Linked DNA regions of Homo sapiens: region 1 is linked to region 2. Evidence: fine-mapped QTL for protein levels in blood plasma. A gene starts in region 2. The other region holds a variant in brackets. All regions are shown on one strand. Distances are from middle to middle.

The links. PIP is the chance, under the fine-mapping model, that this variant and not a neighbour inherited with it causes the effect. The UK Biobank Pharma Proteomics Project read protein levels with antibody pairs (Olink). The fine-mapping took linkage between variants from a reference panel, not from the people measured, so its PIPs are less certain.
Region 1: its variant is fine-mapped to the plasma level of the TBCC protein (UK Biobank, PIP 0.98).

The regions. Positions count from the first base shown.
Region 1 is chr6:42,889,818-42,904,767 of GRCh38, reverse strand. RPL7L1 (ribosomal protein L7 like 1) reads right to left here. Exons shown (of 6, transcript NM_001366481.3): 6 at 14,868-14,950. PEX39 (peroxisomal biogenesis factor 39) reads left to right here and starts at 13,947. Exons shown (of 1, transcript NM_001008739.2): 1 at 13,947-14,503. The coding sequence starts at 13,980. The coding sequence ends at 14,285. RefSeq lists a silencer at 3,010-3,239 and enhancers at 13,496-13,545, 13,606-14,455. The variant T/A (reference allele first, on the strand shown) is at 10,760.
Region 2 is chr6:42,738,314-42,753,263 of GRCh38, reverse strand. TBCC (tubulin folding cofactor C) reads left to right here and starts at 7,161. Exons shown (of 1, transcript NM_003192.3): 1 at 7,161-8,766. The coding sequence starts at 7,191. The coding sequence ends at 8,231. It also overlaps a transcript of BICRAL not described here and the pseudogene LOC124901226. RefSeq lists enhancers at 5,669-5,718, 6,105-7,068, 7,133-7,342, 7,373-7,452, 7,513-7,672 and a silencer at 6,103-6,162.

The DNA of each region.
Region 1 (14,950 bases), 150 kb before region 2:
GACCTCATGATCCGCCTGCTTCGGCCTCCCGAAGTGTTGAGATGACAGGCGTGAGCCACCATGCCCAGCCTGTTTGTTTGTTTTTGAGACAGGGTCTGGCTGTGTTGTCCAGGCTGGAGCACAGTGGCATGATACGGCTCACTGTAGCTTTTATCTCTCAGGCTCAAGTGATCCTCCCACCTCAGCCTCCCATGTAGCTGGGACTGCGGGTGCATGTCACCACACCCGGCTAATTTTATTCTTTTTTGTAGAAACGGGATTTTGCTCTCTGGTTCAGGTTGGAGACTCAAGCTCCTGGGCTCAAGCAATCCTCCTGCCTTGGCCTCCCCAAAGTGCTGGCAGTACAGGCCTGAGGTACCACTCCCAGCCTGCATTCAGAGTTTTTTCTTTCTTTTTTTTTTTTTTATCAGAGTTCCATTACATAGGCATAGTTGATTAAATCACTGGCTGGAGATTCAGTTCCATTTCCCCTCCCTGAACCTCAAGTGGATTGAATCCCCAATCTCTAATCACAGAGTTGGTCTTTCTGATATGGTCAGCTCCTATCCTGAAACTGCTTATGGCCCACCATGAGTCACCGAATTAGCATAAACTATCTGGGCCATAAATATCACTCTTAGTACTTGAGAAATTCTAAGGATTGAGTCTCCCTCCCAAGCACCAGGGACAAAGGCCAAATTCTATTTTTTTTTTTTTTTTTTTTTTTTTTGAGATGGAGTCTCACTCTATCGCCCAGGCTGGAGTGCAGTGGTGCAATCTCCACTCACTGCAAGCTCCACTCCCAGGTTCACGCCATTCTCCTGCCTCAGCCTGTCGAGTAGCTGGGACTACAGGCGCCCGCCACCACGCCTGGCTAATTTTTTTGTATTTTTAGTAGAGACAGGGTTTCACCGTGTTAGCTAGGATGGTCTCGATCTCCTGATCTCAGGTGATCCACCCGCCTCGGCCTCCCAAAGTGCTGGGATTACAGGCGTGAGCCACCGTGCCCGGCCAATTTTTGTATTTTTAGTGGAAATGGAGTTTCTCCATGTTGGTCAGCCTGGTCTCGAACTCCTGATCTCAGGTGATCTGCCCGCCTCAGCCTCCCAAAGTGCTAGGATTACAGGCGTGAGCCACCATACCCAGCCTACGCCAAACTTGTAGGGAAAAGAGAGAGAGATCAGACTGTTACTGGGTCTACATAGAAAAGGAAGACATAAGAAAGTCCATTTTGATCTGTACCCTGAACAATTGTTTTGCCTGGAGATGCTGTTAATCTGTAACTTTAGCCCCAACCTTGTGCTCACAGAAATATGTGTTGTATGGAATCAAGGTTTAAGGGATCTAGGGCTGTGCAGGATGTGCCTTGTTAACAAAACGTTTACAGGCAGTATGCTTGATAAAAGTCATCGCCATTCTCCATTCTCGATTAACCAGGGGCACAATGCACTGCAGAAAGCCACAGGGACCCCTGCCCAGGAAAGCCAGTATTGTCCAAGGTTTCTCCCCACTGAGACAGCCTGAGGTATGGCCTCGTGGGACGGGAAAGACCTGACCATCCCCCAGCCCAACACCCGTGAAGGGTCTGTGCTGAGGAGGATTAGTAAAAGAGGAAGGCCTCTTGCAGTTGAAATAAGAGGAAGGCCTCTGTCTCCTGCATGCCCCTGGGAACGGAATGTCTCAGTATAAAACCCGATTGTACATTCGTTCTATTCTGAGATAGGAGAAAACCGCCCTGTGGCTGGAGGTGAGATATGCTGGTGGCAATACTGCTCTGTTATTCTTTACTACACTGAGATGTTTGGGTGGAGAGAAGCATGAGTCTGGCCTATGTGCACATCCAGGCATAGTACCTTCCCTTGAACTTATTTGTGACACAGATTCCTTTGCTCACATGTTTTCTTGCCAACCTTCTCCCCGCTATCACCCTGTTCTGCCACATTCCCCTTGCTGAGATAGTGAAAATAATAATCAGTAAATACTGAGGGAACTCAGAGACGGGGGCCGGTGCAGGTCCTCTGTATGCTGAGCGCCAGTCTCCTGGGCCCCACTGTTCTTTCTCTATACTTTGTCTCTGTGTCTTATTTCTTTTTTTAGTCTCTCGTCCCACCTGACGAGAGATACCCACAGGTGTGGAGGGGCAGGCCACCCCTTCATCTGCCGCCAATGTGGGTGCCTTTCTCTAAGGTGAAGGTACATTAAGAACGTGAGCATTGAGGACAGTCGACGAGAGATTCCCGAGTACGTCCACCGTCAGCCTTGCGGTAAGCTTGTGTGCTCGGAGGAACCCAGGGTAACAATGGGACAAACTGAAAGTAAATATGCCTCTTATCTCAGCTTCATTAAAATTCTTTTAAGAAGAGGGGGAGTTAGGGCTTCTACAGAAAATCTAATTACGCTATTTCAAACAATAGAACAATTTTGCCCCTGGTTTCCAGAACAGAGAACTTTAGATCTAAAAGATTGGGAAAAAAATTGGCAAAGAATTAAAACAAGCAAATAGGGAAGGTAAAATCATCCTACTTACAGTATGGAATGATTGGGCCATTATTAAAGCAACTTTAGAACCGTTTCAAACAGAAGAAGATAGCATTTCTGCTGCCCCTGAAAGCTGTGTAATAGATTGTGAAGAAGAGGCAGAGACAGAGTTTAGGAAAGGAATGGAAAGTTCACATTGTAAATATGTAGCAGAGTCTGTAATGGCTTGGTCAACGCAAAATGTTGACTACAATCAATTAAAGGAGGTAATATATCATGAATAATCAAAATTGGGGGAAGGAGGTCCAGAATTATTGGGGCCATCAGAGCCTAAACCACGATGGCCATCAACTCCTCCCGTGGTTCAGATACCTGTAACATTACAACCTCAAAGGGAGGTTAGACAAGTACAAACCCCAAGAGAATATCAAGTAGAAAAGGATAGAGTCTCTATCCCGGCAATGCCAATTCAGATGCAGTATCCACAATATAAGCTGGTAGAAAATAAGACCCAACCACCAGTAATTTATCAGTACTGGCCGCCAGCCGACCTTCAGTATCGGCCACCTCCAGAGGTTAAATACAGACCTCAAGTGGTGTGTCCTGTGCCAAATAGCACGGCACCATACCAGCAACCCACGGCAGTGGTGTTTAATCCTACCGCACCACCTAGTGGACAAGGTAGTACACTGCATGAAATTATTGATAAAGCCAGTAAACAGGGAGATCTTGAGGCATGGGAGTTCCCGGTAATTTTACAACCGATACCGGCCGGGAAAGGGACTCTAGCAGGAGCGTCTGTCCAAACTGAAGCTAGATATGAATCTTTCACCATGAAAATGTTAAAAGATATGAAGGAAGGAGTTAATATGGACCCAACTCCCCTTATGTGAGAACATTATTAGATTCCATTGTTCATGGAAATAGACTTATTCCTTATGACTGGGAAATTTTGGCTAAATCTTCCCTTTCACCCTCTCAGTTTCTACAGTTTAAACCGTGGTGGATCGATGGAGTACAAGAACAGGTACGAAAAAATCAGGTTACTAACCCCACTGTTAATATAGATGCAGACCAATTGCTAGGAACAGGTCCAAATTGGAGCACCATTAACCAACAATCAGTAATGCAGAACACCTGTTGAACACCTAAGGGCTATTGAACACCTAAGGGCTATTTGCCTCAGGGCCTGGGAAAAAATTCAGGACCTGGGAACCACCTGCCCTTCTTTTAATTCAATTAGACAAGTCTCTAAAGAGCCATATCCAGACTTTGTGGCAAGGTTGCAAGATGCTGCTCAAAAATCTGTTACAGATGATAACGCCCGAAAAGATATTGTAGAATTAATGGCCTATCAAAATGCAAATCCAGAATGTCAATCGGCCATAAAGCCATTAAAAAGAAAAGTTCCAGCAGGAGTTGATGTAATTACAGAATAAGTGAAGGCTTATGATGGGATTGGAGGAGCTATGTATAAAGGCAATGCTAATGGCTGAAGCAATAGCGGGAGTCGCTTTAGGAGGACAAGTTAGAACATTTGGGAAAAAATGTTATAATTGTGGTCAAATCGGTCATCCGAAAAGGAGTTGCCCAGTCTTAAGTAAACAGAATATAATAAATCAAGCTGGCCGGGCACGGTGGCTCACACCCGTAATCCCAGCACTTTGGGAGGCCGAGGCTGGTAGATCACAAGGTCAGGAGGTCGAGACTATCCTGGCTAACATGGTGAAACCCCATCTCTACTAAAAATACAAAAAATTAGCCAGGCGTGGTGGCGGGTGCCTATAGTCCCAGCTACTCGGGAGGCTGAGGCAGGAGAATGGCATGAACCCAGGAGGCAGAGCTTGCAGTGAGCCGAGATCGCACCACTGCACTCCAGCCTGGGCAACAGAGCCAGACTCCGTCTCAAAAAAAAGAAAAATATAAATATAAATAAATCAAGCTATAACGGCAAAAAATAAAGAGCCACCTGGCCTGTGTCCAAAATGTGGAAAAGGAAAACATTGGGCTAATCAATGTCATTCTAAATTTGATAAAGATGGGCAACCATTGTTGGGGAAATGGGAAGAGGGGCCAGCCTCAGGCCCCGCAACAAATTGGGGCATTCCGATTCAGCCGTTTGTTCCTCAGGGTTTTCAGGGACAAAAACTCCCGCAGGAAATACCACCACTTCAGGGAGTCAGCCAATTACAACAATACAACAGCTGTCCCCTGCCACAGCAGGCAGCGCAGCAGTAGATTTGTGTTCTACTCAAATGGTTTCTTTACTCCCTGGAGAGCCCCCGCAAAAGATTCCTACAGGGGTATATGGCCCGCTGCCAGAAGGGACGGTAGGCCTTATTTTAGGGAGATCAAGTCTAAATTTGAAGGGAGTCCAAATTCATACTGGTGTAATTGATTCAGATTATAAAGGGGAAATTCAGTTAGTGATCAGCTCCACTGTTCCCTGGAGTGCCAATCCAGGTGATAGAATTGCACAATTACTGCTTTTGCCTTGTATTAAAATTGGGAAAAACAAAACGGAAAGAACAGGAGGGTTTGGAAGTACCAACCCTGCCGGAAAAGCCGCTTATTGGGCTAGTCAGGTCTCAGAGGATAGACCCGTGTGTGCAGTCACTATTCAGGGAAAGCAGTTTGAAGGATTAGTGGATACTGGGTGATGGTGCTATCATTGCCTTAAATCAATGGCCCCAAAATTGGCCTAAACAAAAGCCTGTTACAGGACTTGTCGGCGTAGGCACTGCCTCAGAAGTGTATCAAAGTGCCATGAGTTTACATTGTCTAGGACCTGATGATCAAGAAAGTACAGTTCAGCCTATGATCACTTCTATTCCAATTAATTTATGGGGCCGAGACTTGTTACAACAATGGCATGCAGCGATTACTATCCCAGCCCCCAATACAGCCCCACGAGTCAAAAAATCATAACTAAAATGGGATATCTCCCTGAAAAGGGACTAGGAAAGAATGAAGACAGCATTAAAGTCCCAATTGAGGCTGAAAAAACTCAAAAAAGAAAAGGAATAGGGTATCCTTTTTAAGAGCGGCCACTGTAGAGCCTCCAAAACCCATTCCATTAACTTGGAAAACAAAAAAACCTGTATGGGTGAATCAGTGGCTGCTACCAAAACAAAAGCTGGAGGCTTTACACTTATTAGCAAAGGAACAATTAGAAAAGGGACATATTGAGCCTTCATTTTCGCCTTGGAATTCTCCTGTGTTTGTAATTCAGAAAAAATCCGGCAGATGGCGCGTGCTGACCGACTTAAGAGCCGTTAATGCTGTAATTCAACCCATGGGGGCTCTCCAACCTGGGTTGCTCTCTCCGGTCATGATCCCCAAAGATCGGCCTTTAGTTATAATTGATCTGAAGGATTGCTTTTTTACCGTTCCTCTGGCAAAACAGGATTTTGAAAAATTTGCTTTTACTATACCAGCCATAAATAATAAAGAACCAGCCACCAGGTTTCAGTGGAAAGTGTTGCCTCAGGGAATGCTTAATGGTCCAACTATTTGCCAGACTTTTGTAGCTCAAGCTCTTCAACCAATTAGAGACAGTTTTCAGACTCTTATATCATTCATTATGTTGATGATATTTTGTGTGCTACAGAAAGGAGAGACAAATTAATTGACTGTTACACATTTCTGCAGACAGAGGTTGCAAACGCAGGACTGACGACAGCATCTGATAAGATTCAAACCTCTACTCCTTTCCATTACTTGGAAATGCAGGTGGAGGAAACGAAAATTAAACCATAAAAAATAGAAATAAGAAAAGACACATTAAAAACATTAAATGACTTTCAAAAATTGCTAGGAGATATTAATTGGATTCAGCCAACTCTAGGCATCTCTACTTATGCCATGTCAAATTTGTTCTCTATCTTAAGAGGGGATCCAGAATTGAATAGTAAAAGAACATTAACTCCAGAAGCAACTAAAGAAATTGAATTAGTTGAAGAAAAAATTCGGTCAGCACAAGTAAATAGAATAGATCACTTAGCCCCACTCCAACTTTTGATTTTTGCTACTGCACATTCTCCAACAGGCATTATTGCTCAAAATACAGATCTTGTGGAGTGGTTCTTCCTTCCTCATAGTACAATTAAGACTTTTACATTGTACTTGGATCAAATGGCTACATTAATTGGTCAGGCAAGATTACGAATAATAAAATTGTGTGAAAGTGACTCAGATAAAATCATTGTTCCTTTAAACAAGGAACAGGTTAGACAAGCCTTTATCAATTCTGGTGCATGGCAGATTGGTCTTGCTGATTTTGTGGGAATTATTGACAATCATTACCCAAAAACAAAAATCTTCCAGTTTTTAAAATTGACTACTTGGATTTTACCTAAAATTACTAGACATAAACCTTTAGAAAATGCTCTGACAGTGTTTACTGATGGTTCCAGCAATGGAAAAGCGGCTTACACCAGGCCAAAAGAACGACTCATTGAAACTCAATATCACTGGGCTCAAAGAGCAGAGTTGGTTGCTGTCATTACAGTGTTACAAGATTTTAATCAGCCTATTAACATTGTATCAGATTCTGCATATGTAGTACAGGCTACAAAGGATGTTGAGACAGCCCTAATCAAATATAGTATAGATGATCAGTTAAACCAGCTGTTTAATATGTTACAACAAACTGTAAGAAAAAGAAATTTCCCATTTTATGTTACTCATATTCGAGCACATACTAATTTACCAGAGCCTTTAACTAAAGCAAATGAACAAGTTGACTTGCTAGTATCATCTGCATTCCTGGAAGCACAAGAACTTCATGCCTTGACTCATGTAAATGCAACAGGACTAAAAAATAAATTTGACATCACATGGAAACAGGCAAAAAATATTGTACAACATTACACCCAGTGTCAGATTCCACACCTGCCCACTCAGGAGGCAGGAGTTAATCCCAGAGGTCTGTGTCCTAATGCGTTATGGCAAATGGATGTCACACATGTACCTTCAGTTGGAAAATTGTCATTTCTCCATGTGACAGTTGATGCTTATTCACATTTTGTAAGGGCAAACTGCCAGACAGGAGAAAATACTTCCCATGTTAAAAGACATTTATTATCTTGTTTTGCTGTCATGGGAGTTCCAGAAAAAATTAAAACGGATAATGGGCCAGGATACTGTAGTAAAACATTTCAAAAATTCTTAAATCAGTGGAAAATTACACATACAACAGGAATCCCTTATAATTCCCAAGGACAGGCCATAATTGAAAAAACTGATAGAACACTCAAAGCTCAATTGGTTAAACAAAAAAAGGAAAAAAGACAGTAAGGAGTATAACACTCCCCAGATGCAACTTAATCTAGCACTCTATACTTTAAATTTTTTAAACATTTATAGAAATCAAACCACTACTTCTGCAGAACAACATTTTACTGGTAAAAAGAATAGCCCACATGAAGGAAAACTGATTTGGTGGAAAGACAAGAAAAATAAGACATGGGAAATAGGGAAGGTGATAACATGGGAGAGAGGCTTTGCTTGTGTTTCACAAGGAGAAAATCAGCTTCCTGGTTGGATACCCACTAGAAATTTAAAGTTCTACAATGAACCCCTTGGAGATGCGAAGAAAAGCGCCTCTGCGGAGACAAAAAACCCTCAATTGAGCATCATCGACTCGCCAGGTAAATAAAATGGTGATATCAGAAGAACAGATGAAGTTGCCATCCACCAAGGAAGCGGAGCCACCGACTTGGGCCCAATTAAAGAAGCTGACACAGTTAGCTAAAAAAAGCCTAAAGAACACAAGGGTAATGTGAACTCCAGAGAATATACTGCTTACAGCTTTGATTATTATATCAACGGTAGTAAGTCTCCCCATGTCTGCAGGAGCAGCTGCAACTAATTATACTTACTGTGCCTATGTGCCTTTCCCACCCTTAATTTGGGCAGTCACATGGATGGATAATCCTGTTGAAGTATATGTTAATAATAGGGCATGGGTACCAGGCCCCACAGACGATTGTTGCCCTGCCCAACCTAAAGAAGAAGGAATGATGATAAATGTTTCCACTGGGTATCATTATCCTCCTATTTGCCTAGGGAAGGCACCAGGATGTTTAATGCCTACAACCCAAAACTGGTTGGTAGAAGTACCTACCGTCAGTGCCACCAGTAAATTTACTTATCACATGGTAAGTGGAATGTCACTCGGGCCACAGATAAATAATTTAGAGGACGCTTCTTATCAAAGATCATTAAAATCTGGGCCTAAGGGGAAGCCTTGCCCCAAGGAAATTCCCAAAGAATCAAAAAGCCCAGAAGCCTTAGTTTGGGAAGAATGTGTGGCTAATACTGCGGTGGTATTACAAAACAATGAATTTGGAACTACTATAATATTATATAATAGTTATATATTATATTATATTATATACAATTATATTATATATAATTGTATGGGCCAGACTCACTCATGTTTACAGGCCCCATCCATCTGGCCCATTAATCCGGCCTATGATAGTGATTTAATTGAAAGGCTGGACCAGGTTTATAGAAGGCTAGAATCACCCTATCCCTGGAAATGGGGTGAAAAGGGAATTTCATCACCTCGACCAAAGTTAGTTAGTCCTGTTACTGGTCCTAAACATCCAAAATTATGGAAGCTTACTGTGGCCTCGCACTACATTAGAATTTGGTCTGGAAATCAAGCTACAGAAACAAGAAATCGTAAGCCATATTATACTATCAACCTAAATTCCAATCTGACAATTCCTTTACAAAGTTGTGTAAAACCCCCTTATATGCTAGTTATAGAAAACATAGTTATTAAACCAGATTCCCAAACTATAACCTGTGAAAACTGTAGATTGTTTACTTGCATTGATTTGACTTTTAATTGGCAGCGCCATATTCTGCTAGTGAGGGCAAGAGAAGGTGTGCGGATCCCTGTGTCCATGGACCGACAGTGGGAGGCTTCGCCATCTTCCATATTTTAACGGAAGTATTAAAAGGAATTCTAACTAGATCCAAAAGATTTTTACTTTGATTGCAGTGATTATGGGCCTTATTGCAGTCACAGCTACTGCTGCAGCTGCTGGAATTGCTTTACACTCCTCTGTTCAAACTGCAGAATATGTAAATGATTGGCGAAAGAATTCCTCAAAATTGTGGAATTCTCAGACCCAAATAAATCAAAAATTGGCAAACGAAATTAATGATCTTAGACAAACTGTCATTTGGCTGGGAAATAGGCTCATGAGCTTGGAATATCTTTTTCAGTTACAGTGTGACTGGAATATGTCAGATTTTTGTATTACACCCCAAGCCTATAATGAGTCTGAGCATCACTGGGACATGGTTAGATGCCATCTACAGGGAAGAGAAGATAATCTTACTTTAGATATTTCAAAATTAAAATAACAAAATTTTGAGGCATCGAAAGCCCATTTAAATTTGGGAACTGAGGCAATCGTGAAAGCTACTGATGGCCTCACAAATCTTAACACTGTCACTTGGTTAAAAACCATCAGAAGTTCCACTATTGTAAATTTCATATTAATCCTTGTATGCCTGTTCTGTCTGTTGTTAGTCCACAGGTGTATCCACCAGCTCCGAAGAGACAGCGACCAGCAAGAACGGGCCATAACGACGATGGCAGTTTTGTCAAAAAGGGGGATATGTAGGGAAAAGAGAGATCCGACTGTTACTGTGTCTACATAGAAAAGGAAGACATAAGAAACTCCATTTTGATCTGTACCCTGAACAATTGTTTTGCCTTGAGATGCTGTTAATATGTAACTTTAGCCCCAACCTTGTGCTCACGGAAATATGTGTTGTATGGAATCAAGGTTTAAGGGATCTAGGGCTGTGCAGGATGTGCCTTGTTAACAAAATGTTTACAGGCAGTATGCTTGGTAAAAGTCATCGCCATTCTCCATTCTCGATTAACCAGGGGCACAATGCACTGCAGAAAGCCACAGGGACCTCTGCCCAGGAAAGCCAGGTATTGTCCAAGGTTTCTCCCCACTGAGACAGCCTGAGGTATGGCCTCGTGGGACGGGAAAGACCTGACCATCCCCCAGCCCGACACCCGTGAAGGGTCTGTGCTGAGGAGGATTAGTAAAAGAGGAAGGCCTCTTGCGGTTGAGATAAGAGGAAGGCCTCTGTCTCCTGCATGCCCCTGAGAACGGAATGTCTCAGTATAATACCCGATTGTACATTCGTTCTATTCTGAGATAGGAGAAAACCGCCCTGTGGCTGGAGGCGAGATATGCTGGTGGCAATACTGCTGTGTTATTCTTTACTACACTGAGATGTTTGGGTGGAGAGAAGCATA[T/A]ATCTGGCCTATGTGCACATCCAGGCATAGTACCTTCCCTTGAACTTATTTGTGACACAGATTCCTTTGCTCACATGTTTTCTTGCTGACCTTCTCCCCGCTATCACCCTGTTCTCCTGCTGCATTCCCCTTGCTGAGACAGTGAAAATAATAATCAGTAAATGCTGAGGGAACTCAGAGACTGGGGCCAGTGCAGGTCCTCCGTACGCTGAGCGCTGGTCTCCTGGGCCCAGTGTTCTTTCTCTATACTTTGTCTCTGTGTCTTATTTCTTTTTTTAGTCCCTCGTCCCACCTGACGAGAAATACCCGCAGGTGTGGAGGGGCAGGCCACCCCTTCAAAATTCTTTATTATACAACATTCAATATGGTCAGTTTCCTCCAGACTGGCTTCTCAAGCTCTTACCAAGTGCCCCCTACCCCAATTTTTTTTTTTTTAACAGAGTCTCTGTTGCTCAGGCTAGAGTGCAGTGGAACAATCTTGGCTCACTGCAGCCTCAACCTCCTGAGCTCAAGTGATACTCCAGCCTCAGCCTTCCAAGTAGCTGGAACTACTGGTGTGTGCCACCACATCCAGCCAATTTTTGTTTTTGGAGGGGGTCTCACTATGTTGCCCAGGTTAGTCTTGAACTCCTGGGTTCAAGTGATCCTCCTGCCTTGACCACTCCCAAAGTGCTGGGATTATAGGCGTGAGCCACTGCACCGGGCCTACCCCAACTTTTTATTTTGACAAGTTTCAAACCCTCACGTGGATTCACTAATTCTTAGCAATTTTGCCACATTTGCTTTCTTTCTGTCATCATGACACTTCACCTCTACATACTTCAGAATGTATTTGCTATGAACAAGGTAATTCCCACACATAACCACAATTATCACACTTGATAAATTTAACATTGATATATCGTTGTCATCTAATATATGGATCATATTCAAATTTCCCCAAGGGTAAAATGTCCTTTAGAGCTGATCTCCCCTACACAATCTTGCATCTAATCCAGGATCACTCATTGAATTTATTTATTTATTTATATTTTATTTTATTTTTGGAGACAGAGTTTCACTCTGTCTCCCAGTCGGAAGTTGCTGGCAATCACAGCTCAGTGCAACCTCCACCTACCCGGGTTCAAGCGATTCTTCGACCACTGCCTCCAGAATAGCTGGGACTACAGGTGTCCACCACCATGTTCAGCAATTTTTTTTTTTTGTATTTTTTAGTAGAGATGGGGTTTTGCTATATTGCCCAGGCTGGTCTTGAATTCCTGAGTTCAAGCAATCCACCGACCTCAGCCTCCCAAAGTGCTGGGATTAAAGGCATGAGCCACTGTGTCTGGCCTGTATTTATTTTTTATGTCTCCTTTAATCTGGGGTAGTTCTTAGCTTTTTCTTAATGTTTTATAACAACGACATCTGTAAAGTGTCCAGACCAATCATTTTGCAGAATCTCTCTCACTTTGATCTCTATTTCCTCAAGACTAGGTGGTGAGTGAACATTTTTTGGGCATTTTGGGGAGGACTACTACAGAAATGTACTCCCCGTGTGTGTGTCCTTCCCAGTGCATCACATCAGAAGGCACACAAGGCCAGTTTGTCCTATTAAGCTTTTTTTTTTTTTTTTTTTTTGAGACTGAGTCTCACTCTGTTGCCCAGGCTGGAGTGCAGTGGTGTGATCTCATCTCACTGCAACCTCCCTGCCTCCTAGGTTCAAGCAATTCTTCTGCCTCAGCCTCCCAAGTAGGTGGGATTACAGGTGCGCACCACTATGCCTGGCTAATTTTTTTGTATTTTTAGTAGAGATGGGGTTTCGCCATGTTGGCCAGGCTGGTCTCAAACTCCTGATCTCAGGTGACCTGCCCACCTCAGCCTCCCAAAGTGCTGGGATTACAGGTGTGAGCCACCACGCCTGGCCATTAAGCTTTGATTCTTTGATTAAGGTGATGTTCACCAGATCAGTCTAGCTTTTGATACTTTTTTTTTTTTTTTTTGAGACAGAGTTTTGCTGTGTCACCGAGGGTAGAGTGCAGTGCTGCAATCTCAGCTCACTGCAACTTCTGCCTCCCAGGTTCAAGCGATTCTCCTGCCTCAGCCTCCTGAGTAGCTGGGATTACAGGTGCATGCCACCACACCCAGCTAATTTTTGTATTTTTAGTAGAGACGGGGGTTGCCCCATGTTGGTCAGGCTGGTCTCAAACTCCTGACCTTGAGATCCACCTGCCTCCACCTCCCAAAGTGCTGGGATTACAAGTGTGAGCCACCGTGCCCGGCCACTTTTGATAATTTAAAAACCTGACTTTCCGAGCAGTCAGAGCAGCTGTAGCACATCTGACCTGCTTTCACCTTCGATCTTCTCTGGGACCACCAAGAATTGAAGGATGGCAGGAAGTGTGAAGAAAGTGGTGAGGCTCTGGCTGGGTGCGGTGGCTCACACCTGTAATCCCCGCACTTTGGAAAGCTGAGGCGGGTGCATCACTTAAGGTCAGGAGTTCGAGACTAGCCTAGCCAACATGGTGAAACCCTGTTTCTACTAAAAATACAAAAATTAGCTGGGCTTGGTGGCATACACCAGCTACTAGGGAGGCTGAGGCACTAGGGACCCTGTGGATCGCTTGAACCAGGAGGCGGAGGTTGCAGTGCGCTGAGATCGCATCGCTGCACTCCGGCCTGGGCAACAGAGTGAGACTCCGTCTAAAACAACACAAAACAATAATAACAACTAAGAGAGTAGCGTGGCTTGGTGGCGGTGTCACTCCTGAGGCCTCTGGGAACAACTCTACAGTTATGCTTTGTCCCGTGCTGCGGAGCCTAGTATGGGGATTATCCCCCGCCATGCGTTGTATCTGAATCCTTGTACGCGCGCCCGGGGGTGTGCATGAAAATGGGCATGTGCGCGGTGCTTATGTATGTATGGGTCTTTTTGCCCGCAGCGGCGCGTCCGCAGGCTTGTTCTGTCCTGTGCTAGCCTTCAAGTTTTGGCACGTCCGTCCGTTTTTCTTCTTTGGCGCGTCCGTTGGGCACTCTGGGTTTGGCTAAATCGTGGACGCTTCTAAAGCGTTTCTGCAGGGAGCTGGTCAGAGTTGTCAAGTGCTCCCCCAGTTCTGGGCCGGCTTGGTACGGTCTACAGCCTCCCTTTCCTTTCCCCACCTCCCCCATGGTGGTTGCACCCATTCGGCCCGGAAGTGCTCGCTTCTCTGCATTACACGCCGGTCAGGATTCGCGACCCGACATGGAGCGTCCCCGCAGTCCCCAATGCTCGGCCCCGGCCTCTGCCTCAGCTTCGGTTACCCTGGCGCAGCTCCTGCAGCTGGTCCAGCAGGGCCAGGAACTCCCGGGCCTGGAGAAACGCCACATCGCGGCGATCCACGGCGAACCCACAGCGTCCCGGCTGCCGCGGAGGCCCAAGCCCTGGGAGGCCGCGGCTTTGGCTGAGTCCCTTCCCCCTCCGACCCTCAGGATAGGAACGGCCCCGGCGGAGCCTGGCTTGGTTGAGGCAGCGACTGCGCCTTCTTCATGGCATACAGTGGGCCCCTGAGGTTCCAGGTCCTTTGCGGCGGCGATCTGGAGGGCGTGGCTACAGGACCCGGGATGCCATTCAGTTACTCATCTTTTATGCTTTCGTCCTGACCTGTCTCAACTAGACTTGCTCCTGCAACCACCATGGGGGTTTTGCATTTACATTTGTGGACCATGTTACAGTTAAGAAAAATCCTGTTTCAGTCCTTATATGTAATAAAATGTTTTATGATGTAACTTGGCCCCAGAATGATTTTGAAGATACATTAAAGGAAAGCCCAAAGCATTTAAAAAAGCCAACCAAGAAAGACTAAAATCTTGGCTCTTGGAATCAGCTGGATCAGGCAAGGGGCTAGAGAATTAGAGCATTAGAAAGGCTCCCACAGCCACCCTGAAATCAGTCCTTTTATGTTAAGCAGGCCACCTGGCTCAGTGCCTACATACTCAACACTAGATTTTACTTTCTCTACAAAAGCTAGAATGTACCTGGTACGTGCTGACATGACCCTAACCCACAGACGATGTAACAGGTCTACCTTTTCTCAGAAAGGATTGTCTCACAACTTGTTCAACGAATTAGTTATGTCATGGTACATACATATAAGTGCGCAATTTTTGTAACATCTTTTATTTGTATACAATTATAAATTACAAACTTGTTTTATTAGGTTTTTTAAAATTTAT
Region 2 (14,950 bases):
AGCAAGACCCTGTCTCTACAAAAACATTTAAAAATCAGGCCAGGCATGGTGGCTCATGCCTGTAATCCTAGCACCTTGGGAGGGTGAGGTGGATGGATCACCTGAGGTCAGGAGTTCGAGACCAGCCTGGCCAACATGGTGAAACCAGTCTCTACTAAAAATACAAAAAATTAGCCAGGCATGGTGGCAAGTGCCTGTCGTCCCAGCTACTCGGCAGGCTGAGGCAGCAGAATCACTTGAACTTGGGAGGCGGAGGTTGCAGTGAGCCGAGATTGCACCACTGCACTCTAGCCTGGGTGACAGAGCAAAACTCCGTACCCCCCCAACCAAAAAAAAAAAAAAAAAAAAAAAGTCAGCTGGGGGCAGGGCACTGTGGCTCACACCTGTAATCCCAGCCCTTTGGGAAGCAGAGGCAGGTGGATCACCTAAGGTCAGGAGTTGGAGACTAGCTGGCCAACATGGCAAAACTCTGTTTCTACTAAAAATACAAAAATTAGCCACACATGGTGGTGTGTGCCTGTAATCCCAGCTACTAAGGAGGCTGGGGCAGGATAATTGCTTGAACCTGGGAGGTGGAGGCTGCAGTGAGTCAACATGGCGCCACTGCACTCCAGCCTGGGAAACAGTGAGACTCAATCTAAAAAAAAAAATTAGCTGGGCACGGTGGCATGCATCTGTAGTCCCAGCTACTCAGGAGGCTGAAATGGGAGAATTGCTTGAGCCCAGGAGTTTGAGGCTGCAGTGAGCTATAATTATGCCACTGCACTCCAGCTTGGGTGAGAGAGAGACCCAGTCTCAGCAAGCAAAGAACACATTTTACATGTTTTTGTGACTATTTGCCCAAATTAGGCCTTCTTAAGGAGGACAGGGACGATGTCTGTTTTTATCCACCTTGGCAGTCTTAGGGCCTCCCTGGCTCAGTGCTGGGCACAGTTAGTGCTTAATAAACAGATGTTTAGATAAATAAACACGTGCCAGCCTATGTGCTAGACGTTAAGTGTACAATGATGAAAAAAGTTTCAGAAGGTCAAGGGCGTTGAGGCAGAGGAGAGCGCCAGGGGCAAAGGCAGAAGGAAAAGGCTGCTCCTGTCCTGCTTCCCAACAACAGGACCTGCCTGCACAACTGTCACCTTTCACTGTCTTCCTGCCAGAAAGTAGCCAAGGTAGGAAGATTTGCCTAACATTTGATAATTTTGATGTGCACAGCTCTTTAATGAATGCTTTACATCCCATATATAGTCAAGACTTGCTGAAAGATGAATAGGTGATGCTTCTTTCTGGCATCAAACTACTAGAAAAAGGGGCTTGGCCGGGCGCGGTGACTCATGCCTGTAATCCCAGCACTTTGGGAAGCTGAGGCGGGCGGATCATCTGAGGTCAGGAGTTCAAGACCAGCCTGACCAACATGGAGAAACCCCGTCTCTACTAAAAATACAAAATTAGCCCGGCATGGTGGCGCATGCCTATAATCCCAGCCTCTTGGGAGGCTGAGGCAGGAAAATCGCTTGAACCCAGGAGGCGGGGGTTGCGGTGAGCCAAGATCATGCCACTGCACTCCAGCCTGGGCAACAAGGGCAAAACTCCGTCTCAAAAAAAAAAAAAAAAAAAAGAAAAGAAAGAAAAAGGGTCCTTTTATTTGCCTGGGTGTGGCTGGTATCTTCCACCAGTGCAGGGTCCCTGACAAACTCCAGAGAACACCGAAGGGCCTATTCCTTTATTGTTTACCATACCTAAAGACTGTTTTCCTTTGCTTAAATGCTTTCACTACTTACTTCTTGAGGCATGTAACTACAATCATGAGATTCCCTTTGTAACATTAAAAGATCAAATAAATACAACAGACGTTTAAAATTTAACAAATACTGTATAGAGATGCAACCAGCAAAATGCAGACTGTGGGAAACTCTACTGAACAAATGACCAAGCTGCTTCAACAAAACAATTTAGAGAAAAAGGAACCCACACAGTGAAAGTGATTTAAGGCTCTCCACCCAGGACACGGGTCCTCCCACGCCTGAGGCCAATGCTGCCAGGACCTTGGGGTTGGAGGGGGACTTGGCTGACCACATCTTTCAAATAAAGCTGTTTGTCTAACTAAAAAAAAAAAAAAGTGATTTAAGGGACACAATAACTAAATGCAGTGTATGGAACTTGTTTGGATCCTTATTCAAATAAAATAACTTTAAAAAAAGGAAACTGGGCAAGGGGAGGGGGAGCATTAGGACAAATACCTAATGCATACGGGGCTTAAAACCTAGATAACAGGTTGATAGGTGCAGCAAACCACCATGGCACATGTATACCGATGTAACAAAACTGCACATTCTGCACATGCATCCCAGAACTTAAAGTATTAAAAAAAAAAAAAAAAAAAAAAAAAAAAAAAGGCCGGGCGCGGTGGCTCACGCCTGTAATCCCAGCACTTTGGGAGGCTGAGGCAGGCGGATCATCTCAGGTCAGGAGTTCAAGACCAGCCTGGCCCAACATGGTGAAACCCCATCTGTACTAAAAATACAAAAAATTAGCCAGGCATGGTGGTGGGCACCTGTAATCCCAGCTACTCAGGAGGCTGAGGCATGAGAATCACTTGAACCCAGGAGGTGGAGGTTGCAGTAAGCCGAGATCGCGCCATTGCACTCCAGCCTGGGCGACAGAGCAAGACGTCGTCTTGAGAAAAAAGCAAACGTATATTATGGGATAATCAGATGTGAATATAGACTGGCAATCTGCTATTGAGAAAATATTTTCTATGCTTTTTTGGAGTGTGGTGACGGCAATGTGGCTGTCTTAAAAGGGAAGTGGCCAGGCGTGGGGGCTCACACCTGTAGTCCCAGCACTTCCAGGGGCCGAGGTGGGCAGATCACTTGAGCCCAAGAGTTTAAGACCAGCCTGGACAACACAGCAAAACCCTGTCTTTGCAAAAAAAAATACCAAATTTAGCTGGGAGTGGTGGTGCACACCTGTAGTGCCAGCTACTCAGGAGGCTAAGGTGGAAGGATCACTTCAGCCTGGGAGGTCAAGACTACAGTAAGCTGTGATTGCACCACTGCACTTTAGCCTAGGTGACAGAGTGAGACCCTGTCTCAATTTAAAAAAAAAGGGCCCAGGCACGGTGGCTCACACCTGTAATCCCAGAACCTTGGGAGGCAGAGGTGGGCAGAACATGAGGTCAGGAGTTCGAGACCAGCCTGGTCAACATAGTGAAACCCCGCCTCTACTAAAACTATATATATTAAAAAAAATTAGCCGGGCGTGGTGGTGGGCACCTGTAATCCTAGCTACTTGGGAGCCTGAGGCAGGAGAATCACTTGAACCTGGGAGGCAGAGGTTGCACAGAGCTGAGATCGTGCCACTGCACTCTGGCCTGGGCAACAGAGCGAGACTCTATCTCAAAAAAAAAAAAAAGGAACTCCCAATCTTTTAGAGGTATATAGTGAAATATTTATAGACAATAAAATATGAAATAATATAATATAAGGGATGGGCCAAAAAATAATCAGGGTGAGAGGTGGGGAAGTGACTAGGGCTTTACAGGAAACAAGATTCTCAGTTGGTAACTGTTTTTTAAAAAGTTATTATTATTTTTATTGATATATAATAATTGTACATATTTATGAGGTACATGTGATATTTTGATACATGCATATAATATGTAGTGGTCAAATTAGAATAATTGGGATATCTATTACTTCAAACATTTATCACTTCTTTGTGTTGGGAACATTTCAAATCCTTTCTTCTAGCTATTTTGAAATGTACAATACATTATTGTTAACTCGAATTAGGCTACTGTGCTATCTGACACTAGAACTTATTCCCTCTATCTAACTTGTGCCTTTGTGCCCTTTAACCAATCTCACTTCATCTCCCTCCACTTCCCAGCCTCTGGTAACTATCATTCTACACTCCAACTCCATATGATCAACTTTTTCAGTTCCCACATACGAGTGAGAACATGTGATATTTTTCTTTCTGTTCCTGGCTTATTTACTTAACATCAGTTGGCAGTTGTTGAAGCTGGGTGATGGGTATGTGAGTCCTTGGAACACTATTCTAATACCCTCTCCATGTTATATATGTTGGAAATTTTCAAAAAGTTAAAAGGGGGATCTAACAAATAGAACCATAAAGTATCTAAACTGTTGTTAAATAAACGGTAAAGTCCATAATACGTTAGAATTCTTTCATTTTTCAAGATGTCTACAAGAGAGCAGTACCTTGATTCACAAGCCCTTTGAGATATCATTGAAAGTAGGATGCAGAACTCAGAGCTGCTTGCCTTTTGCTACATTTCCCCCGTAATGCATTCCCCACTCTCCTTCCATCAAAACAGGCACTTACCTCTGACAAGCTGGGATATATTTCAAAGATGCATGCTGAATCCACTGCCCTCAAATGGCAGAGAGAGGATGCAAACACAGCCGGGCAATGCCAGCCATTTCGCAGCCTTCCTACTGTGTTTGAACTCAGAAACAGCTTTATCTCCATTTCTTGACCACATACCTCACAGCCTGCAGCTGTGCAGGGGGGCTGTAAAGAACTGTCCAGCCAATGCTTCACAATGACCGTATCACTCACTGACCCCTTTCCACTACTCCTCACATCAGTCTTTGAAACTGCCCCTAACACACCGGGTCACCTGGGTGACCTGTCAAGCTCTGTTTTTAACTGTTTCCTTTTCTTGAAAGTTCGAACTAACCAACTTCAAGTATTTAGAAACTTCCCAAGTCTACTGGATTGTAGCAAAAACCTGTTGGTAGACAGAAATGAAGTTCTTGAAAGGGTTTAATAACATTCAATTCCACTTGGGATACAGCCAACACTTACAACACCCATAGATTCACTATGCCTAATACCGAAATGTTATCTCACTCCAGCTGCAACCTCCAAGTCCAATAAACCTTCTTTAGCTACAAACGTTCTTAATTTGAGTGAGACAGGTTCAACCTGAAAAACTTAAAAGGTCAGGTTGTTTTTTTCTAGAAAAATAAATCTTCTCTAAAGCTTCTTTGCTTAAATCAACATTTCATAAAATAAAGCAGCTATTGCAATTCCTCCACGACTTGGACAATATAACTAGCTTTCTTGTCCACCAGCTTTCAGACCCACAGTTTTGTGAAATAAACCTGCTTTTCTGGAAAAAAAAAAAAAAAAAAAAAGGGCCAGGCACAGTGGCTCATGCCTGTAATCCCGGCACTATGGGAGGCCGAGGCGGGCGCATCACCTGAGGTCGGGAGTTCGAGACGAGCCTGACCAACATGGAGAAACCCCGTCTCTACTAAAAATACAAAATTAGCCGGACATGGTGGCGCATGCCTGTAGTCCCAGCTACTCGGGAGGCTGAGGCAGGAGAATCACTTGAACTCGGGAGGCGGATAGCGGTGAGCCGAGATCGCGCCATTGCACTCCAGCCTGGGCAACAACAGCATAACTCCGTCTCAAAAAAAAAAAAAAAAAACAAAATAAAACAAAAAAGCAAAAACAGAAGCCTCACCTAATCTGCCCATAAAACAAGACTAGTGAAAACGATGACTATGCACAAGAGTAAGCACCATTGTTTTTCGGCACCCCCTTTTCCATCGGGTGCACGCAGGCACGCGGACACACAAGCCTCTCCCCTGCCCCCGCGCCCCGCCTGCGCGGGGAATCTGCCACACGGTATGAACTGTGCTCTCAGCGGAGAAATACTCTGGCCCAGCAATTTATGTGTGTTTTGTTTGTTTTAAGTGGGAAGGAAAGGAAGAGAGTGGGGCGTGAAAATGGGAGATCAGTTTTAACTCAGATTTAATTCAATGGTTCGCGTTTCCTCCCATCTTTCTCTGCATCAAAATGCAGGTAGATCGGTGAAATTTCAAGTTTCTTGGGTCGTTAAATACCCCAATTTAAACGATGGAGGCTGGGAACTGGGGATATAAGGAGGAAACCTAGGGTTGGAAGGGCGGGCAGGGTTAAAGAGGTTCGGGAGCTCCGCAGATCTGAGCGAAGCATGCGAGGCTGCCGCGCCCGGGCAGCGGCTGCGTCTCGGGTTCTCGCCCTGCCCGCTGCCTCGGGTTTTTGCCAGTGACTGCGCCGTCTTGGCTGCCCACCCACACCTCGGGTTGGTCCCGACTTTAGGCTAGGCCATTCACTTCCGGTGACAAATCCCTCCCACCACCCCTAGAAATAATGTACCGCTTCTCCCACCGCTTTCCTAAGACCGACCGCCCCAGAGAGCCACGGAGCCCGGGGCTAGGGTCTCACCCCAGCGCGGCCGGCGACGCCCAGCTGCGGAGGGAGTGGCCGGGACCGAGCTCGGGGAGGGCAGGGAAGAAAGAGGAAGGGGGTGTGGATCTCACCTTCCCCCGCCCCCACCCCTCCGACTGCAGCAATTGGCCAAAAAAATAGTAATCCTTTTATGGACTCCCCCAGGGCCCCTCGAACCAGGTTGCAGTGAGGAACCCAGTCTCTCCCATCGCAGTGCCCCTTGCCTTCTCCTGCCCTAGTAACTGCCTGCGGGGATCCAGGAGCCCCCAGGCCGCGCCGAACTGCAGTGGATAGGGGGGAGGGGGGCGGTAAGGATGAGGGCTACGGGGAGGCAGAAATGGGTTGGGGGAAGGGGTGGTGGAAGGGAAAAGAAAAAACCGGAGGCATGCAAGCGGCTCCCCAGCCAGCTGTTCCAGCTGCTGCTTCCTCCGGCGCGGGCCAGGCGGTGCAATATTCCCCCCCGCTCCATCTTTCTCACCACTACCTGTCCCCCCAACCCACCACACGCACTCATCCCTCCCACCCACACCCCTAGTAGCGGATCTCCGGCCTGTAAGGGGGTAGTAGGGAGGAGCTGGGGGGAGGGGGAGGCCTGCGAGTTTCTAACCTTGTTCTTATAAACAAACCCACATGTGCAGCTGCCGCTGCTGCAACTCACCCCACAATCCCGGATATAAGTCCTGCCCCTTTAAGAGGAAAAAAAAGATTCCCCCGCCTGCCTCCCACCCCACCCATCCACAAGAACCTTTGTCTTCCCACCCCCATAGTCAGTCGGCCCCGCCCCATCTCCCCGCCCCCTCCGACGCAGAGGAACCAATAGGCGAAGAAAATAAGGCCGGGGATCTGACATCATCATGTTAGGCCAATCACCGGACGCGTTGGTGGGAGGCCTCACGGACAGCGCGCCCGGAGGAAGGAAGACAAGAGAGAGGAAGCTTGAAGCCAATATGGAGTCCGTCAGTTGCTCCGCTGCTGCTGTCAGGACCGGAGACATGGAGTCCCAGCGGGACCTGAGCCTGGTGCCTGAGCGGCTTCAGAGACGCGAACAAGAACGGCAGCTGGAAGTTGAAAGGCGGAAACAAAAGCGGCAGAACCAGGAGGTAGAGAAGGAGAACAGCCACTTTTTCGTCGCCACCTTTGTTCGGGAGCGAGCGGCCGTGGAAGAGCTTCTGGAGCGCGCGGAGTCGGTCGAGCGGCTGGAGGAGGCGGCCTCTCGGCTCCAGGGGCTGCAGAAACTAATCAACGACTCAGTTTTTTTCCTAGCCGCTTACGACCTGCGGCAGGGACAAGAGGCGCTGGCGCGGCTGCAGGCGGCCTTGGCCGAGCGGCGCCGGGGGCTGCAGCCCAAGAAGCGTTTCGCTTTCAAGACCCGGGGAAAGGATGCTGCTTCGTCTACCAAAGTAGACGCGGCTCCTGGCATCCCCCCGGCAGTTGAAAGCATACAGGACTCCCCGCTGCCCAAGAAGGCGGAAGGAGACCTCGGCCCCAGCTGGGTCTGCGGTTTCTCCAACCTGGAGTCCCAAGTCTTGGAGAAGAGAGCCAGCGAGTTGCACCAGCGCGACGTTCTTTTGACCGAACTGAGCAACTGCACGGTCAGACTGTATGGAAATCCCAACACCCTGCGGCTAACCAAGGCCCACAGCTGCAAGCTGCTCTGCGGTCCGGTGTCTACCTCTGTTTTCCTGGAGGACTGCAGTGACTGCGTGCTGGCAGTGGCCTGCCAACAGCTCCGCATACACAGTACGAAAGACACCCGCATCTTCCTGCAGGTGACCAGCAGGGCCATCGTGGAGGACTGCAGTGGGATCCAGTTCGCCCCTTACACCTGGAGCTACCCGGAGATCGACAAGGACTTCGAGAGCTCTGGTTTAGATAGGAGCAAAAATAACTGGAACGATGTTGACGATTTTAACTGGCTGGCCCGGGATATGGCCTCCCCAAACTGGAGTATTCTTCCTGAAGAGGAGCGAAATATCCAGTGGGACTAAGCAGTTGTCACTCTGTTCTTCACTCCTACCAAATACTTTCCACGTTGGACTTTCCCCCTTATTGGGTCTCGAAGTTTACTTATTGTCACACTGTGTATGTTTTCAGCATTTTAAGGCTAGAGATTGTAATGGGCTCCTACTTGTAATTTCCATTAAATTCGTAACAGGTATAACACTAAAGCATTTTTGCTATTTTCGTCATGCCTTTGAGACTGAGTCTTACTCCGTCCCCCAGCGTGGTGGCGCGCTGGGATTACAGGCGCGCGCCACCACGCGAACTTGTATTTTTAGTAGAGACGGGGTTTCGCCATGTTGTCCGGGCTGCTCTCGAACTCCTGACCTCAGGTGATCCACCCGCTTCAGCTTCCCAAAGTGCTGGCATTACAGGCGTGAGCCACCACGCCAGGGCTTTATTTATTTATTTTTACCACAATAGTTTGAAGCAGTAAGGGGGAAGGAGGGTGATTATATTGCTTTGTAATGGTTTGTGATACTTGAAACATCACGGTGCATAATAAAGTAGGTCTGCAGTAAATACATGGGTTTGTTTGGTGTGTGTGTGTGTGTGTGTGTTTTGTTTTTAAAGAGATGGGCTCTCCTTATGTTGCCCAGGCTGGTTTCGAACTCCTGACCTCAAGCAATTCTCCTGCCTCAGCCTCCCAAAACACTCGGATTATAGACAGTAACCAGCAGTGTCAGGGTATAGATACATATTTAATAAATTCCAGAGCTGAGCCCGGGGGCTCACGCCTGCAATCCCAGCACTTTGGGAGGCTGAGGTGGGCAGATCACTTGAGGTCAAGAGTTGGAGACCCGGTGCCAGGTGAAACCCCGTCTCTACTAAAAACACAAAAATTAGCCGGGCATGATAGTTCACACCTGTAGTCCCAGCTACTCAGGAGAACTGCTTGAACCTGGGAGACAGGTTGTCGTGAGCTGACATCACGCCACTGCACTCCAGCCTGTGTGGCAGAGTGAGACACTGTCTCAAAAACAAAAAACCATAGGTAATTCCTTTGTCCCTAGACATTCAGTTCCTTCGGAGAGCCATCACTCTTTACGTGTTTCTTTTTTTTTTTTTTTTTTGAGACAGAGTTTCGCTCTTGTTGCCCAGGCTGGAGTGCAGTGGCGTGATCTCAGCTCAGTGCAACCTCAGCGTCCCTGGTTCAAGTGACTCTCTTGCCTCAACCTCCCGAGCAGCTGGGATTACAGGAGCCCGCCACCATGCTCGGCTAATTTTTTGTATTTTTAATAGAGAATTTCACCATGTTGGCAAGACTGGTCTTGAACTCCTGACCTCGGCTGATCCACCTGCCTCAGCCTCCCAAAGTCCTGGGATTATAGGCGTGAGCCACTGTGCCCGGTCCTTTTTTTTTTTTTTTTCCTTTGTTTCTTTGAGACAGGGTCTGGGTGAAGGACCTTCTGGGCTCAAGATATCCTCCAACCTCAGCCTCCCAAGTAGCTGGGACTACAGGTGCACCCCATCACCCCCGGCTAATTTGTGTATTTTTTGTAGAGAGGGCTTCATCATGTTGCCCAGGCTGGTCTCGAACTCCTGAGCTCAAGCAATCTGTCCCCCGTGGTCTTCCAAGTGCTGGGTGGTGGTGCGTGTTTGTAATCCCAGCTACTCGGGATGCTGAGGCATGAGAATCCTTTGAACCTGGCAAGAAGAGGTAGCAGTGAGCCATTACTGTGCCATTGCATTTCCAGAGCAAGACTCTGTATAAAAAAAAAAAAAAGAAAAAAAAGAAAGGGGGTGGTGCCAGGCGCGGTGGCTCATCCCTGTAATCCCAGCACTTTGGGGGGCCAAGGCAGGTGGATCACCTGAGGTCAGGAGTTCGAGACCAGCCTGGCCAACAGGGTGAAACCTCGTCACTACTAAAAATACAAAAATTAGCCGGGCATGGTGGCACACACATGGAATCTCAGCTACTTGGGAGACTGAGGCAGGAGAATATCTTGAGCCCAAGAGGCAGAGGTTACAGTGTGCTGAGATTGTGGCGCTGCACTCCAGCCTGGGCGACAAGAGCAAAACTCCATCTCAAAAAAAAAAAGAAATTTTTGGGTCTTTGCCAGTTTGATGGTTACAAAATATTACCTTCCTCTACTAGTAATGGTAATCATCTCCTAACTCATCTCCCCATCTCCAATTTCTGAACTATTCTGCATACAGCTACTAAATTAGTTTTCTTAAAGTATGTCACTCCTGATCTAAAACCTTCTGAGATTCTTATTATCTGATAGACTTCCTGGCCTGGAAGACAAGCCCCTCCACCATCTGTTTCAGCCTACTGTTCTTACATGATGTTTTACTGTTTCATCACACACATTTCATGCACCAGCTAGTCTGAACTAATACCCATTAATCAAACACAATGTCAGGGCTCTGGCAGGAAACAGATGGCTTGCTCAAAATGGATACTTTGAGAAGAGCTTAATACAGGAGCTATTTACAAAGCTGTGGGCAGAGTATAAGAAAAGCAATTAGAGATGGTACAATATCTGTTACCATCCTTAGGGCTGAAGGGACAAAAATGTTACCTGAATGCAGAGAGAGATAGACAGTTATTGAGCTACCTGACAGGAGTTTCAGTCCTCAGTGGAGGGATGCTGCCAATCCATGGTGACCTGGCAGGGAGAGAGCCATGGGACTTAAACAATGTCATTCTCTTTTATTGGTGCCTCCCGTTGGTAGAGCCCAACTGGAAATTTCAGGGCAAAGAAGTCTGCTGCCGCAGTCCATATGAGTCAGCTCCCAGGATGTAGAACAGCGTGGAGAAAAATGAAGAATGGATCTGGAGGAGGAAATGGAAGACACTAAGGGCAGGCCAGCGCTGTGGCTCATGCCTGTAATCTCAGCACTTCGGGATTGCCTTGGGATTTGCCTTGGGAGGCCAAGGCAGGTGGATCACCTGAAGTCAGGAGTTTGAGACCAGCCTGGCCAACATGGTGAAATCCCGTTTCTACTAAAAATACAAAAATTAGCCGGGCATGGTGGCAGGCGCCTGTAATCCCAGCTACTCAGGAGGCTGAGGCAAGATAATCGCTTGAACCTGGGAGGAGGAGGGTACGGTGAGTCGAGACTGTACCACTGTACTCCAGCCTGAATGCCAGAGCGAAACTCCATCTCAAAAAATAAATATTCAGTGCAAATAGTTTTTGCCGTATTTCCTGGCCTTTTCTCGAGCAGTGCCCACACAGATTGGGTCCCCATGCACTTGCCAAAATTTCATACAAGACAAATGTCACTTCCTCTGGGAAATCTGGGATTTTCCTTAGTCTCTTTTGAAAATGAGGCATGGGCCAGGCTTGGTAGTTCATGCCTGTAATCTCAGCATTTTGGGAGGCCTTGGTGGGAAGATCACTTGAGCTTAGGGGTTCAAGACCAGCCTGGGTAACATAGGAAGACTCTGTCTCTACAAAAAATACAAAAATTAGCTAGGCATGGTGGCACACGCCTGTGGTCCCAGCTACTCAGGAGGCTGAGGCGGGATGATTGCTTGAACCTAGAGGTCAAGGCTACAGTGAACTGTGATTGTGCCACTGCACTCCAGCTTGGGCGACAGAGTGAGACCTTGTCTCAATAAAAAAAAAAAAATGAGGAGGCCAGGAGCGGTGGCTCACGCCTGTAATCTCAACACTTTGGGCGGCTGAGGTGGGCAGATCACTTGAGGTCAGGAGTTCGAGACCAGCCTGGCCAACTTGGTGAAACCCCGTGTCTAGTAAAAATAGAAAAATTAGCTGGGCATGGTGGTGTGCACCTATTATCCCAGCTACTCGGGAGGCTGAGGCCTGAGAATCACTTGAACCCAGGAGGCAGAGATTGCAGTAAGCCTAGATCACGCCACTGCACTCCAGCCTGGGTGGCAAAGCAAGACACTATCTCACAAAAAAAAAAAAAAAAAAAGGAAAAAGCTTAAAGAGAAACCAAGGAACGACCACTATGGGAAAGAACAGGGGAAACTTCTGGCCAATCAAAAAGTACTAAAGATTTACATAAAAGTTAGCTGTAATCTTTGAGGAGGGGAAATGAAGGAGGGAGGAGTAACTGCTTTTTCCCCAGCTTTGGTTACTGAAATTCTCCGGGGAGGGCCATTCACGCACATCTCATCAGAGATGGTAATTTCCAAGAAAGATGATTAAAAAGTTGGATGACTTTTAAGGTCCTTGAGCAGAGGAATGCTTATGGACATTACCAAGAACATTCCATAGAAGTTGCAGTTTAATAAACATTAGCAAATCCAGTTCATGCACAAATTTCTCCCAAGGAGCATTGACAGTTTAGCTTTTTTGTTGTTGTTGTTTTTTACAACAGGGTCTCACTCTGTTGTCTAGGCTGGAGTGCAGTGGTGCAATTATGGCTCACTGCAGCCTTGACCTCCCAGGCTCAAGCAATTATCCTACCTCAGCATCCTAAGTAGCCACCACACTTGGCTAATTTTTTTACTTTTTTTTGGAGAGCTGGGATGTCACCATGTTGCCCAGGCTGGTCTTGAACTCCTAGGCTCAAGGGATCCTCCCACCTTGGCCTCCCAAAGTGTTGAGGTTACAAGTGAGAACAAGCCAATTTAACTTTTTGACTGGGTACATGTTTAGTTTATGTTTGTTATTTATTTGTATTTTATTTTATTTTAATTTCTCTTTTTTTTTTTTTTTTTTGAGACGGAGTCTCGCTCTGTCGCCCAGACTGGAGTGCAGTGGCGCGATCTCGGCTCGCTGCAAGCTCCGCCTCCCGGGTTCACGCCATTCTCCTGCCTCACCCTCCCGAGTAGCTGGGACTACAGGCGCCCGCCACCACACCCAGCTAATTTTTTGTATTTTTAGTAGAGACGGGGTTTCACTACGTTAGCCAGGATGGTCTCGATCTCCTGACCTCATGATCCGCCCGCCTCGGCCTCCCAAAGTGCTGGGATTACAGGCGTGAGCCACCGTGGCTGGCCCACGCCCAGCTAATTTTTGTATTTTTAGTAGAGATGGGGTTTCACCATGTTGTCCGGGCTGGTCTCGAACTCCTGACCTCAGGTGATCCACCCACCTCTGTCTCCCAAAGTGCTGGGATTACAGGCATGAGCCACTGCGCCTGGCTGATTTTAGTTTCTCTTAATCTTCAATTTTGGTATGGTCATGGCATGAAATGTGTTTCCTGCCATGGAAACCCAAACTATAACATTACATCTCTGGAAACTATGGGCTAGACTTGACTTGGGTTCAATTGTGACTGACGTTAAAGAACCAACTGACTTCTTCAGTCCAATAACAGCTGTAAGACTGGGATACTGGGGCCGGGCGCAGTGGCTCACGCCTGTAATCTCAGCATTTTGGGAGGCTGAGGTGGGAGGATCACCTGAGGTCAGGAGTTCGAGACCAGCCTGGCCAACATGGCGAAACCCCATCTCTACTAAAAATACAAAAATTAGCCGGGCGTGGTGCATGCCTGTAATCCTGGCTACTCAGGAGGCTGAGGCAGCAGAATCATGTGAACCTGGGAGGCAGATGTTGTAGTGAGCTGAGATCGTGACACTGCACTGCAGCATGGGTGACAGAGCAAAACTCTGTCTCAAGGGAAAAAAGAAAAAAGAAGAAAAAACTGGGATATGTCCCCAGGGGCCTTAATAAAAAGTACTGGATGGGGCAGTAGCTCACCCCTGTAATGCCAGCACTTTGGGAGACTGAGGTAGGAGGATCACTTGAGCCCAGGAGTTAGAGACCAGCCTGGGCAACATGAGACCCTATCTCTAACACAAAATTAAAAAATTAGCCAGGCATGGTGGTGCATATCTGTGGTCCCAGCTACTCAGGGGGCTGAAGTAGGAGGATTTTTAAATTTTTAAATTTTTAATTTTTGTGGATAAGTAGTAGGTGTATAAATTTATGGGTTATTTGATACAATGAGTAATAGTAATGCAATGAGTAATAGTCACATCAGAGTAAATGGGGTGTCCATCCCCTCAAACATTTATCCTTTGTTACAAACAATCCAATGATACTCTTTTAGTTATTTTAAAATGTACAATTAAATTATTTTTGACTATAGTCACCTAGTTGTGCTAACAAATACTAGGTCTGATTCATTTTATTTTTATTTTTTCAGACAGGGTCTCGCTTTGTCACCCAGGCTGATGTGCAGTGGTGTGATCCTGGCTCACTGGAGGCTTGATCTCCCAGGTGTAAATGATCCTTTCACCTCAGCCTCCCCAGTAGCTGGGACTATAGACCTGCACCACCATGCCTGGCTAATTTTTAAATTTTTTTAGAGACAGTGTCTCCCTACGTTGCCCAGGCTGGTCTTAAACTCCTGGGCTCAAGTGATCCTTCCACTCCAGCCTCCAAAGGTGCTGGAGTTACAGAAGTTAGTTAGCCACTGTGCTCAACTCTGATTCATTTTTTCTAAGTAATTATTTTTTTTTTGAGACGGAGTTTCACTCTTATTACCCAGGCTGGAGTGGAATGGCACAATCTCAGCTTCCTGCAACCTTTGCCTCCCGGGTTCAAGCGATTCTCCTGCCTCAGCCTCCCAAGTAGCTGGGATTACAGGCAGGTGCCACCACCCCCAGTTAATTTTGTATTTTTAGTATGGATGGGGTTTCACTATGTTGGTCAGGCTGGTCTCAAACTCCTGACCTCAGGTGATCCACCCACCTCGACCTCCCAAAGTGCTGGGATTACAGGCGTGAGCCACCGCGCCCAGTCTTTAACTAATTTTTTGTACCCATTAACCA